Linked DNA regions of Homo sapiens. The protein of the gene in region 2 interacts with the protein of the main gene of each other region in a pairwise test. Each region holds a gene or a part of one and is shown on either strand. Other genes may lie near its edges.

What was found.
Region 1: the proteins of MATCAP1 (region 2) and ZBTB8B interact in binary tests that used the Homo sapiens proteins (3 or more experiments, as listed by UniProt).

Annotation. Positions count from the first base shown.
Region 1 is NC_000001.11:32,471,472-32,475,290, forward strand, and holds part of ZBTB8B (zinc finger and BTB domain-containing protein 8B), read left to right. Parts: coding exon 1-144; intron 145-3,819. UniProt on the Homo sapiens protein: May be involved in transcriptional regulation.
Region 2 is NC_000016.10:67,177,881-67,181,131, forward strand, and holds part of MATCAP1 (microtubule-associated tyrosine carboxypeptidase 1), read right to left. Parts: intron 2,787-3,251; 5' UTR 2,731-2,786; coding exon 2,161-2,730; intron 2,079-2,160; coding exon 1,935-2,078; intron 1,683-1,934; coding exon 1,550-1,682; intron 625-1,549; coding exon 319-624; intron 228-318; coding exon 130-227; intron 1-129. UniProt on the Homo sapiens protein: Tyrosine carboxypeptidase that removes the C-terminal tyrosine residue of alpha-tubulin, thereby regulating microtubule dynamics and function. Also able to remove the C-terminal phenylalanine residue of alpha-tubulin TUBA8.

The DNA.
Region 1 (3,819 bases), on a different chromosome or scaffold from region 2:
CGCTCTTGCGCAACAGCGCTGCCCCGAGCAAGGATGATGCAGACCATCACTTTTCTAGGAGTTTGGAAGGAAGACCAGAAGGTGCAGGAGTAGCCATGAGTTCCATGATGGATGTCCAGGCTGACTGGTATGGAGAGGACTCAGGTGAGCTCCCTTAGCATTCATCAGCCCTGCCAGTGATTGAGTACACACTGTCTGTGCCTTGTGTTCTCCCATCATCATGATCATTATCACCATCATCATTGTCACTACCAACATTATCAGTACCATCATCACCAGTACCATCATCATTACCATCATCACCAGTATCGTCATCATTACCATCATCACTACCATCATCACCAGTACCATCATTACCATCATCACCAGTACCATCATCATCATTACCATCATCTCCAGTATCACCATCATCAGTACCATCATCATCACTATCATCATCACCAGTACTATTCATTACCATCATCACCAGTACCATCATCATCATTACCATCATCTCCAGTATCACCATCATCATTACCATCATCATCAGTACCATCATCATCACTACCATCATCACCAGTACCATCATCATTACCATCATCACCAGTACCATCATCATCACTACCATCATCACCAGTATCACCATCTCATTATGATCATCATCAGTCACCATTATTGCCACCACCACCACCACCAATATGCATTAATTGAGCACCTGCTATATGCAGGGCATTATTTCTTCATGTATGTTTGTGTTTTACCTCTACAACTGGAATGTAAGTGTGTTGGGGGCAGTTTGGAGACATGGGAGGAACCCACTCTCTTCCACTAACCGGCAGTGGGACCTTGGTTAAATCATTGAATCTCTTTGAGTCTGTTTTGTCATCTGTAAAACGGGAATAATCATCCCTGCCCTGCCTCTCTCACAGGTTTGTTGTGGGGACCAAATGAGAGAGTTTTCAGAACTTTTTCTCACATATCATCTTAGATTTCCTCTATGCTGGGAGGTCAGTTTTGTGTGGGGAGAATGAGATTGAAGTGATGTCCAGAGATATATGCTCCAGAGATTTATACTTCTCTGTGTCAGCCAAGGTGCTTGTCAGAGACTAGGCACCCAGCCTGGCATGCTTGATGATGCCATCTACTTGAGACTATTTGATTGATTGATTGATTGATTGATTGAGACAGGGTCTCGCTCTGTCACCCAGGCTGGAGTGCAACGGTGTGATCTCGGCTCACTGCAACCTCTGCCTCCCAGGTTCAAGTGATTCTTCTGCCTCAGCCTCCCGAGTAGCTGGGATTACCGTAGGCGCATACCGCCACGCCCAGCTAGTTTTTGTATTTTCAGTAGAGACAGGGTTTCACCATGTTGGCCACGCTAGTCTCAAACTCCTGACCTCAAGTGATCCTCCTGCCTTGGCCTCCCAAAGTGCCAGGATTATAGGCGTGAGCCACTGTGCCCGGCTGACTTGAGACTATTTTAGAGCCAGTATTTGACATCATGTGAGCTAATTTTTTACATCCTTTGGTGGGCTTTTGCGTTTTAAGAGAACCTGCTTGTTTCTTTGAACAGTTATGAGAGTTGAGTTAATATGGCTAACTCCTCTTAACAGGTGAGGTAATTGTGTTATAAGGTGTCTTGTAGGAGACAAAAATAAACTTGGCTGCCAACTTACTGATGAAACGTGGCTTCCAAACCTTAAGCCAAGGCTGGGCGCGGCGGCACGCGCCTGTAATCCCAGTTACTCAGGAGGCTGAGGCAGGAGAATAGCTTGAACCTAGGAGGCGGAGCTTGCAGTGAGCCGAGATCGTGCCACCACACTCCAGCCTGGGTGACAGAGCGAGACTACTTCTCAAAAAAAAAAAGAAAGAAAGAAAGAAAAGAAAAGGAAAAAAATACCAGAACCTCAAGCCAAGAAATTCATGAATTGCAGTCTAGTAGTGAAATATTGAGTAGTGAAAGTCTTTTCCTTTTTTTAGCTTCTGATTCTCTGAAGTGAAAGTCTTTTAAATAAAGGGAGATCAGCTATTTTTATTCATTACTAAATGGCTGTCTTGAGACTTTTTTTTTTTTTTTTTTGAGACAGGGTCTTACTCTGTTGCCCAGACTAGAGTGCAGTGGCATAATCACAGCTCACTGCAGCCTCGACCTCCCGAGCTCAAGTGATCCTCCCACTTCAGCATCCCAAGTAGCTGTGATTACGGGCATACACCACCACACCCAGCTAATTTTTTGTATGTTTGATTTATAATAGAGACAAGGTCTCCCTATGTTGCTCAGTTTGGTCTCAAACTCCTGGGATCAAGCAATCCTCTCACCTCAGCCTCTCAAAGTGCCAGGATTACAGGTGTGAGCCATTGTGCCTGGCCTGTCTTGAAACTTTCTAATTTCTGGGTTTATTTTATTTTAATTTTTTTGAGGCAGAGTCTCACTCTGTTGCCCAGGCTGGAGTGCAGTGGTGCGATCTCAGCTCACTGCAACCTCTGCCACCTGGGTTCAAGCGAGTCTCCTGCCTCAGCCTCCCGAGTAGCTGGGATTACAGGCACGTGCCACCATGCCTGGCTAGTTTTTGTAGTTTTAGTAGAGATGAGGTTTCACCATGTTGGCCAGGCTGGACTCGAACTACTGACCTCAGGTGATCCCCCTGCCTCGGCCTCTCAAAGTGCTAGGATTACAAGGATGAGCCACTATGCCCGGCTTCAAATTTCATTTTTTTAAAAAGCAAGAGCACTCAGTGTGTCTGATTAAAACAAGACTTGAAAAACTTGAAAATGGCCAGGTGCAGTGGCTCACACCTATAATCCCAGCATTTTGAGAGGCCAAGGAGGGAGGATTGCTTGAGCCCAGGAGTTTGAGACCAGCCCGGGCAAGATGGCAAAACCCCATCTCTACAAAAAAAAAAAAAAAAAAAAAAAAAAAAAAAAAAAAAAATTGAAAAATTAGCCAGGCGTCATTGCATGTACCCATAGTCCCAGCTACTCAGGAGGCTGAGGTGGGAGGATCACCTGAGCCTGGGAGGTCGAGGCTGCGGTGAGCTGTGATTGTGCTTCCAGCCTCGATGACAGAGTGAGACCTTGTCTCAAAAAAAAAAGGAAAAAGAAAAAAAAAAGAAACACTTGAAAATGCTGTTTCTGGTTCTGAGACACTGGCTTCACCAGCATTGGGAAGATAGTGGCTGCTTCCATGAACACACCGTGGGAACTTGTTCAAATTCTCATTGCTGTGTGTATAATGGCATTTCACAGACTGATCACCCTTTCACATCCACAAGTCTCTCATGGTGTCCCATGCCTTTGGCAGAGGAAATATGGAGAAACTGTTACCTAGAAGGGTTTAGTGAGTTTCGTAAGAATGTAAGTAGTAAGTGGCCCAGCTAAAACCAGAAAACTGGAGTGGCTTCTTTCATTCATTAAACAAACAGTGAAAGCAACACAAGTAGGTAGCGGATTTCAGTGCAATGATTTTTTTCTTTGAACCCCTCTGCATGTAAGCACAAGAAGTATCAGGAAATAGGCATTTGGCTCTGTGCCACTTATAATATATTCAGGTCCTGTCCTTATTGGTCTGGAAAGTCAGAGTTCTTGCTATAAGGTGTTGTGGTGTGGCAAGGCAGCTGCCCTGGCCCCTGGCCATGCCCTGTTGTCTACCATGTTTTTATTTCATTCATACGGCTCCAGGGTATAGTTTTTCCAAGTGCTAAGGCACAGAGTAGGATTGATTTGTTTGGTTATTCATTTATTTGTTCAAATATTTGAGTACCTTTTGTGTGAAGGCATAAAGATAAGTCAGACATGGATGCAGCCCTCAAAGAACTGATAGTGTTGTATAGGAGATAAGAC
Region 2 (3,251 bases):
CACCCACGCTCCCCCCTACCACCACAGGCCTGACACCCAGCCCTCGGTCTAGCACCAATCCGAGGCTCAGGGAATTCTACAGCAAGGCAGGGAGCTGGCTGGGACCTCTGAAGGTCCACAGCCCCTCACCTTGCCCAGTGAGGTCAGCAACGGGAAATCGATGGTCTGGCGATGTCGCAGAATGCGCACGATGCCGTCCAGGTACACCTGGTCCTTGCTGAAACAACCTGGGAGGGCAGGAGGGCGGTGAGCCCCGCCCCTCGCCCGAAGCCCCGCCCCCACCCCGGCTCTAGGCACCTCCCCCGCGCTGGCGCACACCTGGCAGCGAGGTGTCGGTCTGGCCGCGCTTGGCGCGCACGCAGTACTCCCAGCGCACATCGGCGTCCTGCACGTAGCGCTCCAGGTCCTGGAAGAGCTGACGGAAGGACATGCGCGCGGCGCGGTGGATGGTGTAGTAGAGCAGTGCAGCGCGCCACAGGAACGGCTGCTTGCGGAACAGCACGCTGTGCAGGCTGGCCAGGCCCTCCTCCGTGGGGTTCGCCGGCCGCAGCCCGTACCGCAGCCGGCCCTCCGCGTTGTGCCACGGCTGGCGCGCGTTGTTCACGCCCCGCAGGTAGTGGGTGCCTGCGGGGAAGGCGAGGGGAGGCGGCGCTGGGCGGGGCGTTCGGGGACCCGCCTGCGAGCCCAGCCCTGGCCCTGTTCCATCTGGCCGGGGCTCTGGCCGCGACACTTCCATCCTCATGCTCCTGAACTCAGGCTCGCACACAGGCTCTCCCAGCCCCAGGCAGCGTGAAGCTCCTCCTCCTGTGGACTCGCACCCAAGGATCCACAGAGGCTCACATACATGAATCCTCTCCCACCCATCCGCCCCCCACCCTACACCCACGCACCCACACACGTGCACGAACTCTCCCAAACTGACATTGCCCCCAGCCCTCCTGGGCACAAGAATACATATACCACCCTGCCCAACATCCTGGGTGCCCATATCATCTTGAACAGTCATGCTGATGCCCCCGGTAAAAATCACTCTTGCCCAGAGCAACAGGATTCTCGAGGAAGAGGGACAGACAGATAGGAATAGTGGTTAGTGCCCTGCACCCCCCTGCCCAAACTGGCCAGTCCCCTCCTAAACCAGGTGCCATGTGTCCTCAAGTCAAGTCCATTCCCAGGACCTGGCCTTCCATCCACCCTGGAGGGCCAGCGTGGTGGCTGGCCTGGTGGGACCCTGAGGGTTCTTTCTCTGGCCGGTCAGGGCCTGACCAGCCTTGCCCGCACTGTTGGGAGAAGTCGGAGAGGAAGTGGAGAGAGAAAAATATACCCGAAAGGACCAAGAGATGAGAGCGAGCCCAGAGCATGGGCAGGCATGTTCTGGCCTACCTCTGTAAGCAGAGGGCGGGAGGTGGCTGCTCAGGAAGGGAAAGCCCCGACCTCAGGAGGGAAGGGGGAGAAACAAAAAGGGGAGTTATTGGGGCCCCTCCTTCCCACCCCTCCCAGCTCCCAGGCCCCTTTCATGCCTACCCATCTGCCCGGATACCCACACCCTGACCTATCTCATGCCGCAGCATGCCCTCCAACCAGTACTGGCGGGCTCCGGTCAGGTTGATCGCCAATGTGGGCCGGCTGTTCTCCACCATCATCACTGCCTGGGACAGCAGGTCCTCACTCAGCTGCACCACAACCTGCAGGTGGCAGTGCTCTGAGCCATGGCCACCAGCCTGGGGCCAGGGTGCAGGTGGACCCAATGATGCCACAGGGCAGCGAGGCCAGACAATTGGCCAGGGCACCCACCCTTCATCACCTCTGCTCAGAACCAGCTCCCACCTCACTGGGGCAGGGGCAGGGGTGGGTCAGGTGTGGAGCTGGACCTGGGACCGCCCACAAGACACCCTGATTTGGGGCATGTAGAGGAAGGGCTCTGCAGGCAAGCTCACCTCCCCAGCGCAGCCCTCCTTCTGCATGTATTTGCGCACAATCGACCATATCTGGCACTTGGTGAGCAGCTGCCCCCCAGTGGCAGCCTCAAAGTGTTCATAGGTTCCAAACTTCTCCAGAACAGCCTCAATGATGCCAACTGCCTGTACACGGGGCCACAGTGGCTGGTCAGGACAAGCCCCTTGGGTGGTCAGGGCCAGGATACGGTGGGGAGGCTGGACTGACCTGATGGATGAACTGTCCAGAGGCCTCGCAGTACTTTTCCAGCACAGCCGTGGGCATGGGCTCCTGGTACTCAAACTGTGGATTGTAGGTGTAATGGGACTGGAAGAACTTGTCTCGCTCACGGTCCATGTTGGTTGGCCGCAGGGCCACCAACATGCAGGGGCTCTTGCTGGCAATATGGCCTGCATCCCTTTGAGTCTTAGCAATGTGAGGCAGGGAGGCTGCAGGCCGCAGGGTGCCCCCACCTGGGTTCCGTCCCCGTCCAGGTGGAGGCCGTCCCAGGGTGCCACGCCCCCGCCGGCCAGTACTATTTACAGAGTAGGTGCTCTCACTGCGACGCATGTGGCCACGGTGGCCCAGGAGCATCTGTGAGAACGGCTGCTGCTCAGGCTGGGGCTGCAGCGCTGGGGGGACTGCCAGAGCCAGGGGCAAGGCCAGGGACTGAGACCAGGGGTACAGTGGTGGCCCATCTCGGTCTGAGGGCTTCAGCCTATGGCGCAGGGATGGGGGACTGGTAGGCGGGCTGGGGGGTGCCTGATCATACGCCTGAGCCCCTGAGTCCAGCACCATTCTGTCCTGGGGGTCACATCCAGCCGGGTCACTCCAACTCCCCACACTGTCGACCTCTGGGGACACAGAAGGGCATGTGGAGACCAGCATGAGTGGGTGTGACCAAACGACCAGCAGGCCCTGTACTCCACATTGCCTCTGCTGGGCCCTTGGTGGGCCCAGGCTCTGCTACCAGGGGTCTGATTGGCTGCAGCGTCCATTGCCTCCAGCAGACTCACCCAAATATGCTGGGCCGGAAGAAAGCACTTTTGTTTTCGTTTTTGTTTTTTGAGACAGGGTCTCACTCTGTTGCCCAAGGTGGAGTGCAGTGCAATGATCATAGCTCATTGCAGCCTCCAACTCCTGGCCTGAAGTGATCCTCCCGCCTCAGCCTCCCAAAGTGCTGGAATTAAATGCATGAGCCATCGCACCCAGCCGAAAGCAAGAGTTTTAAACACCCACCTAGGTGGTGGTTACTGGAATCCTCTCAGCCTGAGCTCCTGAAGGCAAGGACTGAGCCCCTTACTCGTGATTCTAATCTC